Homo sapiens: one gene and its partner. The protein of the gene in region 2 purifies or fractionates together with the protein of the main gene of each other region. This does not show direct contact. Each region holds a gene or a part of one and is shown on either strand. Other genes may lie near its edges.

Region 1 (4,365 bases), on a different chromosome or scaffold from region 2:
GACAGGTTATCTTATGTCCCTGACTTCAGCCTGACTGTCTGTAGAGGAAGATACTCGTCCATGATGCTGATGGTTCACCAGCAGCAACCAGGGCAGTGTGAAAATGCAGATTTCCAAGCTTTGCTCTCTCGCTTCCTGAATCAGAATTGCTGAGGGACAGGCTAAATATATTTTTAAAAAAGCTCTTTGGGTCGGGTGCGGTGTGGCTCACACCTGTAATCCCAGCACTTTGGGAGGCTGAGGCTGGCGGGGTTTTACTAGGTCAGGAGTTCCAGACCAGCCTGGCCAACATAGTGAAACCCCCGTCTCTACTAAAAATACAAAAAATTAGCCAGGCATGGTGGTGTGCGCCTGTAACCCCAGCTACTCCGGAGGCTGAGGCAGGAGAATTGCTTGAACCCAGGAGGCAGAGGGTTCAGTGAGCCAAGATTGTGCCACTGCACTCCAGCCTCGGCAACGGTGCAAGACTCTGTCTAACGTCAAAAAAAAAAAAAAAAAAAACAAAAAAAACCCAAAAAACAAAAAACAAAGCACTAAAAGACCTTTGGTGGCCAGGCACGGTGACTCATGCCTGTAATCCCAGCACTTTGGGAGGCCAAGGTGGCCAGATCACCTGAGGTCGCAAGTTCAAGACCAGCCTGGCCAACATGGTAAAACCCCGTCTCTACTAAAAATACAAAAATTAGCCGGGCGTGCTGGTGGGCGCCTGTAGTCCCAGCTACTTCGGAGGCTGAGGCACACGAATCACTTGAACCCAGGACGCAGAGGTTACAGTGAGCCAAGATTGTGCCACTGCACCAGAGAATAAGACTGTCTCAAAAAAATAAAAATAAATAAATAAATAAAATAAATTTTAAAAAAAGCTCTTCAGTGATTCTTATAATCAGTTTGGTTTGGAAACTATCCATGTTGTCAACCTTAATGAAGGGATTCTCAAACTTCAGGTACCTGTTAAAATGCAGATCCCCTATGTGTTGGGTGGGGACCCCACACTCATATTTTAATAAGCTTCCCAGGTGATTCTGATACAGGTGGGCCTTCAACTGTCTTTTGGCCTGTGAATGTTTTGATTCTATTGTTGCATGTCTCTGACAGGTGCAGACACTATGCTACACTACACAAAACTTCCCTGAGCAAGTGGTTAAATACACAACTAGATGCAGAAAGGGCGATCATGAGCAGGTAACAGGATTTTCAGGGCTTCGTGATCCCCAGTATGCGGTTTATAGCATTTCTAAGTAGGAGATCTACCAGGAAAATGAAGTGGAAGTGGAAGAGAGAGTTTTAAAGAGATTGCAGAGATTACTCTTCTAGTAATGGTGATCCTATAAATACAGTCCATACAGATTTGGACTGTAACATATTACATCTTTGAGAACAGTAGTTCTCAAACGGGGGTAATTTTACACAGAGGTCATTTGGCAATGTCTGGAGACATTTCTGGTAGTCATAGCCGTATGTGTGCGTGTGTGTATGCTGTGGGCATCTAGTGGGTAGAGGCCTGGGATGTTGCTAAAGACCCTACAATGCACAGGACAGCCTTCATAATGGAGAACTAACTGGTCCAAAATATCAATAGTGCGAAGGTGAGAAATCTTGCTCTAGAGGAGCTGGTTCCAAGATGTGAGGACTCTGGGGACAACAGGGGTTAAAAGAACAATCAATTCATCCACCTCTCCACTTATAATTTTTTTTTTTTTCCAAGACGGAGTTTCGTTCTTATTGCCCAGGCTGGAGTGCAATGGTGTGATCTCGGCTCATTGCAACCTCTGCCTCCTGGGTTCAAGCAATTCTCCTGCCTCGGCCTCCTGAGTAGCTGGGATTACAGGTGCCCGTCATCACGCCCAGCTCATTTTTTGTAGTTTTAGTAGAAATGGGGTTTGATCATGTCGGCCAGGCTGGTCTCAAACTCCTGACCTCAGGTGATCCATCCGCCTCGGCCTCCCCAAGTGCTGGGATTATAAGCGTGAGCCACCGCGCCTGGCATCCACTTACAATTTCTTACAGGCCAGGAGGCCCTGTGGCTATGGAGATGAATAACCCATACTCCTGCTCTTCAAAAACATATAATCGGATAGTTTACAATAATTACAGAATGCTACATTAGCAAGGTTGTACACTAGAATCTCTCAGAGGTACTCACTGAAATAGGATTCCCAGGCTCCACAGACCTATCAAGTCAGACTCTCCAGTGAAGGGGTCAATAAGCCTCTCTGGTTTTTCGGGGTCCTGTGCTGGAGATTCTGTTTCAGTGATGGGGAGGTGAGGGGGGCTGTCAGAGGGACAATATGAAGACCGGTCTGACTGGGGCTAGAAGGGCTGTCAACGGGTACAAGCAAGAAGTATTCCAGGCAGAGAGATTATCATGTGCAGATACAGCCACTGACCTTTCTAGGTGAATCTACTCACACATCTGAGTACCCAGTTCTCCATCAGTAACTCCAGAAATGTACTGGATTAAAAGCAGAGGAAAAGCAAAGGCCAAGAAAATGTTTCCCAAAAAAGGAAGCAGAAAGCCCGCCATATGGGGACAAGGTTTTAGGGCAGCCTATGATACTTGGCAACAATATCCTCATAAGAAGTTAATCTTTTACCAGATGTAATTAGCAACCCATCATTTACCATCATTTCCCAGTTGCTCCTGCACTTTCTCAAAGTCCGATCCGCCTACCACTCCGATTTTGATCTTCTGCCTCAATTTTTGTAGGAAGTCATCCATTTCTTTGGTAATTTTCTAAATTTCAAGAAAGAAAATACAACAGTCATAAGCCACACAATAATCAGGAGACCAAAACTCTAAGGGTAACACAAGTACATAAGTCTTATTTTCTTATTTAAAAATTAAAGAAAAAATTTTTTTTTGAGATAGGGTCTCACTTGTCACCCAAGCTGGAGTGCAGTGGCATGGTCATAGCTCATCGCAGCCTCGACCTCCCTGGACTCCGGTGATCCTCCTATCTCTGCCTCCTGAGTAGCTGGGACCATAGTTATGTGCCAGCACACCTGGCTAATTTTTTTATATTTTGTAGAGACTAAGTTTTGCCATGTTGCCCAGGCCAGTCTGGAACTCCTGGGTTCAGGAGATCCACCAGCCTTGGCCTCCCAAAGTGCTGAGATTACAGGTATAAGCCAGGTCTATAAGCCTTATTTTCATACATGCCAATTAAGTTACCAGCTCTGTACATAGTTCAAATATTTTAGTTGTAACTGGGGGGGCATCTTTACCAGAATAAACTTAAGTGTTATTTTTACCAAATTTTAAACACAGGTAATATGTTAGTAGCTGTTGTGCACTGTCCCAGCTATTTTTCTATGCATTTATATACCCATCTATGGGCACATATACAAATAGGTCTTATTTTTGAAACATAAATGGAATCATGTCCTGTGCAGGGACTTTGGTTTTTCAGCACTATGCTGTGGTGATCTTTTCATGCCAACACAGATCTAGCTCATCATTCCTTTTAAATGCTACACTATACTCCATTTATGGATTTAAGTTGTTGATTTTAAAATAAAACAACATAATGAAATTAAAGAGGAAGCTTAGGGCCAGACATGGAGGCTCATGCCTGTAATCCCGGCACTTTAGGAGGCCGAGGCGGGTGGATCACCTGAGGTCAGAGTTCGAGATCAGCCTGGCCAACGTGGCGAAACCCTGTCTCTATTAAAAATACAAAAATTAGGCGGGCGCGCTGGTGGGCGCCTGTAGTCCCAGCTACTCGGGAGGCTGAGGCAGGAGAATCACTTGAACCCGGGAGTCAGAGGTTGCAGTGAGCCAAGATCGTGCCACTGCACTCCAGCCTGGGTCACAGAGCGAGACTTCGTCTCAAAACAAAACAAAACAAAACAAAAAAAAAAAAAAAAGGAGAAGCTTAGAATTGATTTTATTGCAATCACCCAAAACAAAACAAAAATGTAAAAGAGTAAGATAACTAGATTTTTTAGTCTCTTCTAAAAGCAAAGCTCCTATCTAGAAAGAGTGGTCTTAGTGGTATAATCTTATGGTAAATTCCAAACTGTGTGATAATTTTAAAAAAGTTATAAACTAAGATGAAAAAATAGCCCTACATTAAGACACATCACAATGTATTTTTACAAGTCTTATAACTCAGCACTTTGAGCAATCTCAGTTGTACATTTACACTGAATGTCTTTTTTTTTTTTTTTTTGACACGAAGTCGTGCTCTGTCACCCAGGCTGGAGTGCAATGGTGTGGTCTCGGCTCATTGCAACCTCCACTTCCTGGGTTCAAGCGATTCTCCTGTCTCAGCCTCCCAGGTAGCCAGGATTACAGGCGCCCGCCATCATGCTCGGCTAATCTTTTTGTATTTTTAGTAGAGACTGGGTTTCACCATGTTGGCA
Region 2 (5,577 bases):
ATCTGCTGAGGCCCACCTGCAAGAGTGGCCCCTGCTGTCTACCTGGCTCTCGTGTGGGAAAGGGCAGGACAGCTGAAGGCTAGATCTTACCTGGAAAACAAGCAGGCGCTAAGTTTGAATCTTGAAACTTCCTAGCTTTCAGCCACTTCCTCAGCTCTATAAATTCAGACTTGTGGCTCTCATTCACTATCAGGCAAGGAGAGAACAAATGGTGATTAAAACCACTATATAATCGGATTACCATTTTTAAAAGAACATGTCTGATGAAATGTGTCAGACAGACTTACACAATAGTAAGAATTGGTGTATCTAAACATAGAAAAGTTACAATAAAAACACAGTATTGGCCAGGCGCAATGACTCACTTCTGTATTCCCAGCATTTGGGAGGCCAAGGCGGGAGGACTGCTTGAGGCCAGGAGTTTGAGCCCAGCCTGCCCAACACAGAAAGACCCCATCTCTTAAAAAAAAAAAAAATACAATATTATAATCTGAGGACCACCACTGTACATGTGATCCATCAACCAAAACATACTTATGCAACATACGACTATATTCATTCAATGTAATCCTAATCAAAATTCAAGCAGGCTTTCATACAGGAATTAACAAGATGATCCCAAAATTCATGTGGAAATGTAAAAAGCCTAGAATAGCCCCAATATCTTTGAAAGATTGATTTTAAAACTTATTATAAAGCTACAGTAATCAAATTAGTGTGATATTGTCAAAACAGACACAAATAGGTCAAAGGAACAACACAGAAAATAGGAAGAGGTCCACACGTAAATTTTTGACAAAGTGCAAAGGCAAATCAGTGGAAGAAGATAGTCTTTTCAATAAATGATGATCAAACAACTGGACCTCCATCAGCAAAAAAAAAAGTGAGCTTATCGATATCTTGTACCATATCCAGTTGGATTTACATAGGACTTTCCAGATGGCCAAGCACTTTTGTATTGAACAAGATACAGTATCTTCTTCAGACAGGGTTACCCTGAATTTGAAGTCATAAATTTACATCCAAACATTGATATCCTACAGATAGCTGAAGGTCAAGACCAGAAAAAGAAAGTTGGGAGTCATCCCCAGAGAAGACAGTTGAAACAATGAGTTAGTTATCTTCACATTCCCACCAGGATCTAAAAGAATACAATGGCACCATTAAAAAAGAGTGTTATTTAAGAAATATTCTCTTTGGGCTGGGCACAGTGGCTCACACCTGTAATCCCAGTGCTTTGGGGAGGCCAAGGCAGGAGGACCACTCGAGCCCAGGAGTTCAAGACCAGCCTGTGCAACATAGACCCTGTCACTACAACAAATTTAAAAAAACATTAGCCGGGTGCAGTGGCATGTACCTGTAGTCCCAGGTACTTGGGAGGCTGAGGCAGGAGGGAGGCTAAGGGAGGAGATCACTTGAGCCTGGGAGATCAAGCCATGATCACGCCACTGCATTCCAATCTGGGTAACAGAATGTACCTTGTCTCCAAAAAAAAAAAAAAAAGAAAGATTCTCTTTGAACACTGTGTGCCTTTGAGAAAAGCTATGTGTTAGGCCGAGCATGCTGGCTCACGCCTGTAGTCCCAGCTACTTGGGAGGCTGAGGCAGGAGAATCGCTTGAACCGGGGAAGCAGAGGTTGCAGTGAGCCAAGATGACACCACTGCACTCCAGCCTGGGTGACAGAGCGAGAATCCGTCTCAGAAAAAAGAAAGAAAGAAAGAAAAGCTACGTATGAACAAACAAGCAATCACAAAAGGATTTCTTTTTTCATTACTGGTACTAAAAGAAAAACCATACCTCCTCTTGATTCAGAACTTCCGCAGAGTTTTCGTCTTCTGATCCGGCTTGTTCTCCCTTTTCCTTTCTGCATGCTAAAACTGTAGTTTCTTTTTTCTGAAATACAGTTCTATTTTTTCAAAAAGGACAAAACTGTAATTTCTGTGGAAATGCTCAATCTAAAATAAAAAACATTTCTTTGATTTACTTTCCAGTTATATGATAATCACTGTTCTTTGTACCTTTAAGTATACAAATGTATGTTTTGGTAAACTGTTTCTCTCAAGTGCTTTTGTACATGAAACGTTTATACTGTGAGCTAAATCATGATCCCTACAGTAACAGAATTCCCATTATATCAGTCCCTCTAAAACAGTTTTATCTTGCAGACCTAGTGACTACAGCTTAATCTACTAAAAATACAAAAAATAGCTAGGCGTGGTGGCACACGCCTGTAATCCCAGCTACTTGGGAGGCTGAGGCAGGAGAATCGCTTGAACCTGGGAGGCGGAGGTTGCAGTGAGCCGAGATCGCGCTACTGCACTCCAGCCTGGGCGACAGAGCGAGGCTCCGTCTCAAAAAAATAAAAAAATAAATACATAAATAAAAATAAAATAATGGCTGGGTACAGTGGCTCACGCCTGTAAAACCAGCACTTTGGGAGCCCGAGGCGGGCTGAGGTCAGGAGTTCAAGACCAGCCTGGCCAACATGGTGAAACCCCGTCTCTACTAAAAATACAAAAATCAGCCGGGCGTGGTGGCAGGCACCTGTAATACCAGCTACTGGGGAGGCTGAGGCAGGAGAATCGCTTGATCTCAGGAGGCGGAAGCTGCAGCTAGACGAGATCACGCCACTGCACTCCAACCTGGGCGACAGAGCGAGACTCTGTCACAAAAAATAAATTAAAAAAATAAAAATAAAAAATAAATCTACTTCTAAAACATACGAGGGCAGAAATGAGCAAGAGACAAGAACTCCAGGCAATATTAATACCGCACTTCCGCAGTATAAGGTTCATTATTTGACCTAACGAAAGTCGGCATGTCCAGCTCCAGAGGCGAACGGCGGCTGGTTCGGTGCGGGTCCCAGCGCTCAGTCCACAGACCGCGCCGGGAAGTGTCCCCAAGACTCCCGGGCCCTCGCGCGAGCTGTCCACCATCACCCTGCTGAGGACCACGTGAAGCCCGGTGACCGCCACAGACACAGGCACCGTCCCCGCCCCCATAGTCCTCAAACTCTAGCCGTGAGGCCGTCCTACGGTCCGACACACACCGCTCCCGCAGCCATAGGCCAGCCAGGCGAGCATCGGACCTCGGGCCTCAGGCTCCTCAGCTTTACGCAGCGCGCCGGAGCAACATGCGCTAAGTGTAGGACTCCACAAGATGAGAGGTTACTGCAGCGCACACGATAATGCCTGCCCTGGAGGGGACCTGCGACCTAAACTCAGTTCTTTTTACGCTGATGAATGAAAGACTAAGGAACGCACCCCGCCGACTCTGCTCCCGTTACCCGGGCAACTGGAGGCCCGACCCGGAAGTCCTACTAGCTCACCTAGGCGCCGGCGGCCGCTTCCAAGATGGAGGCTGCAGTGGGCGGGCCCAAGGCACGTGGAAATACCAAACAGCCCCAGATGAAGGCAAGTTAAAGGAACCGGCCAAAACTGCAGAGGGAGAGGCTGAAGGCTGTCGCGCCTGCCTGGTGTCCTTAAGCAATCCAAGTCCTCAGTCTCCCGGGTCCGCCCCTTCCGCCGCGGGCGGCAGCTTCCGGCTCGCGCATGCGCAGTGTTCGCGGACTCGCCGCCAACGCCCAGTACAGTCGGGGACGAGGTCGGCACACCCACAGCCCCATAACCCCTACGTCGAGTCAGGGGTCAGAAAACCCAGTAACCCGCAGGCGAGCAAGCTGCGCACTGAAAAGCCGGCCTGCGGAGTCTTTCCTTACGAAGTTAAACCACCTAGGGCGCGCGGCCCTGTTCGCCCAGACCTCGGGCTTTCCTGCCAGGCTGGGTTTGCCGGGTCGAGTCACTTTGCTCGCCAATCCCCGCCCCCATTCCACCGTTTCATTCTGGCCCCAGGACCCGCCTCACAGGAAAATTCTAAATAATATATCTAAATACCCCTTCTTCCAATAGCGGGAGCTCGATTTCTGCCCCACCCACCCCCACTTTGATTATGGGCTATGCCTAGTAACTTGATTCCAAAGAGTACAGCCTGGAATGGTGTTGGGGACTACAGTGGAGAAACCTGGCAAACAGTACCTTACCGGGTGGTCAAGGATAACATCAGGAAGAAATCATGCTGATAGCATGTTCCTGTGGTGTCTCTCTCCAAAACCCTTCTATGGAAATCTTCTATGGGGGAAAAAAAATTAGTACTCCTAAACATGTTTTCTGTCATGAAAAACAAGTACAGTTGTCCCTTAGTGTCCGTGGGGGAATGGTTCCAGGACCCTGCGGATACCAGAATTAGAATGCTCAAGTCCCTTGTATACAATGGTGTAAACCTAAGTAACAAAAGAGGCTCCCTAAAAGAAAATGAGATTTATCTGGGAGTAGCATTGCAATGGGAATATGCATGCCATAGTAAACTGTGTGCGTTTTGGGGGAGGTTGAGGCAAGGAGATGTTTTTAAAAGGAAAATGAAGATTATATGAATTGCTTTAAATCAATTATCTTTGGCTAAAAGAATGAATAACAAAGGTAGCATCAGTCCAAAGTTGCTGGACAGATGTCCTTGCAGAAGGATTTTCTGTGTTTAAGATTGGGCCTTTCTGCAAGGTTAGGGTCTTTTGTGACAATTCTTGTTATGAGGCGTAGTGCATGAGAACCCTTCCTTCAAGGCCTTCCCCAGCTGCATTTATCAGGGTTTTGACACAAGTGACTCCATTTTGATTCTGCAACTTTCACAATGGTGTAATATTTGCATATAACCTATGCACATCCTCCCATATACTTTAAATCATCTCTAGATTACTTATAACATCTAATACAATGTAAATACTATGTAAATAGTGAAGGGGTGGCCTGCCGCTCCACACCTGTGGGTGTTTCTCATCGGGTGGGATGAGAGACTGAGAAAAAAAAGAGACACAGAGGCAAAGTATAGAGAAAGAAAAGTGGGCCCAGTGGACCGGCGCTCAGCATACGGAGCACAAATCCTATTTAAACTACAGATTCTAAACACAAATGATTTTATTCACCCCTGCCCCCCAACACTAAAAGATTTAAACACTAACATAGTTTCTAACAGCTGTAAACTAAACAAATCCTAAGCCCCTACTGACTGAATGGAACCCCTTTTGGCCAAGATGGCCCCAGAAAAAAACTTAGAAACTTAGTTCCCAGCCCTGATGGAATGTGAGGTCAGACATGCCTCATTATACCCTCTCTCTTTTACAGTTTAGATACAACTGGCCAGCATTGATGTTAAAATAGAGACCATGAGACTGATGGAACAGACTTTTTGTGGCAATAAGATACAAAAATTATAAACAAGACCTAAGGCCATTCCAGGAAAGAGTTAAGTCACTTCAAGAATAAATTCTGTTCTAATGGTTACAAGTTTTTTCTTTTTCTCTAGCAGCTAAACAAGCACTCACCTCCACCTAAGCAATATTAAAACAATTACCGCTTGTGCACCACCAGATGTTAACTAACCCCCTGTTCCACAATGACAGAGCATCACCATCTTGGACAACCCCCTCATTCTAAAGTGCACCTTAATAAAAAACCGCCTAGGCCAGGTGCGGTGGCTCACGCCTGTAATCCCAGCACTTTGGGAGGCCGAGGTGGGCAGATCACG

The links. Proteins that work in one complex are often made in the same cells at the same time.
Region 1: the proteins of SETD4 (region 2) and PMM2 purify together in Homo sapiens (affinity purification with mass spectrometry; one large-scale study listed by BioGRID and IntAct). This does not show direct contact.

The regions. Positions count from the first base shown.
Region 1 is NC_000016.10:8,800,168-8,804,532, reverse strand, and holds part of PMM2 (phosphomannomutase 2), read right to left. Parts: intron 2,735-4,365; coding exon 2,623-2,734; intron 1-2,622. UniProt on the Homo sapiens protein: Involved in the synthesis of the GDP-mannose and dolichol-phosphate-mannose required for a number of critical mannosyl transfer reactions.
Region 2 is NC_000021.9:36,057,019-36,062,595, forward strand, and holds the start of SETD4 (SET domain-containing protein 4), read right to left. Parts: upstream 3,509-5,577; 5' UTR 3,329-3,508; exon of another isoform or gene 2,804-3,328; intron 1,956-2,803; exon of another isoform or gene 1,907-1,955; 5' UTR 1,871-1,906; coding exon 1,798-1,870; intron 460-1,797; exon of another isoform or gene 367-459; coding exon of another isoform or gene 366-366; intron 187-365; coding exon 91-186; intron 1-90. UniProt on the Homo sapiens protein: Protein-lysine N-methyltransferase that methylates both histones and non-histone proteins. Via its catalytic activity, regulates many processes, including cell proliferation, cell differentiation, inflammatory response and apoptosis.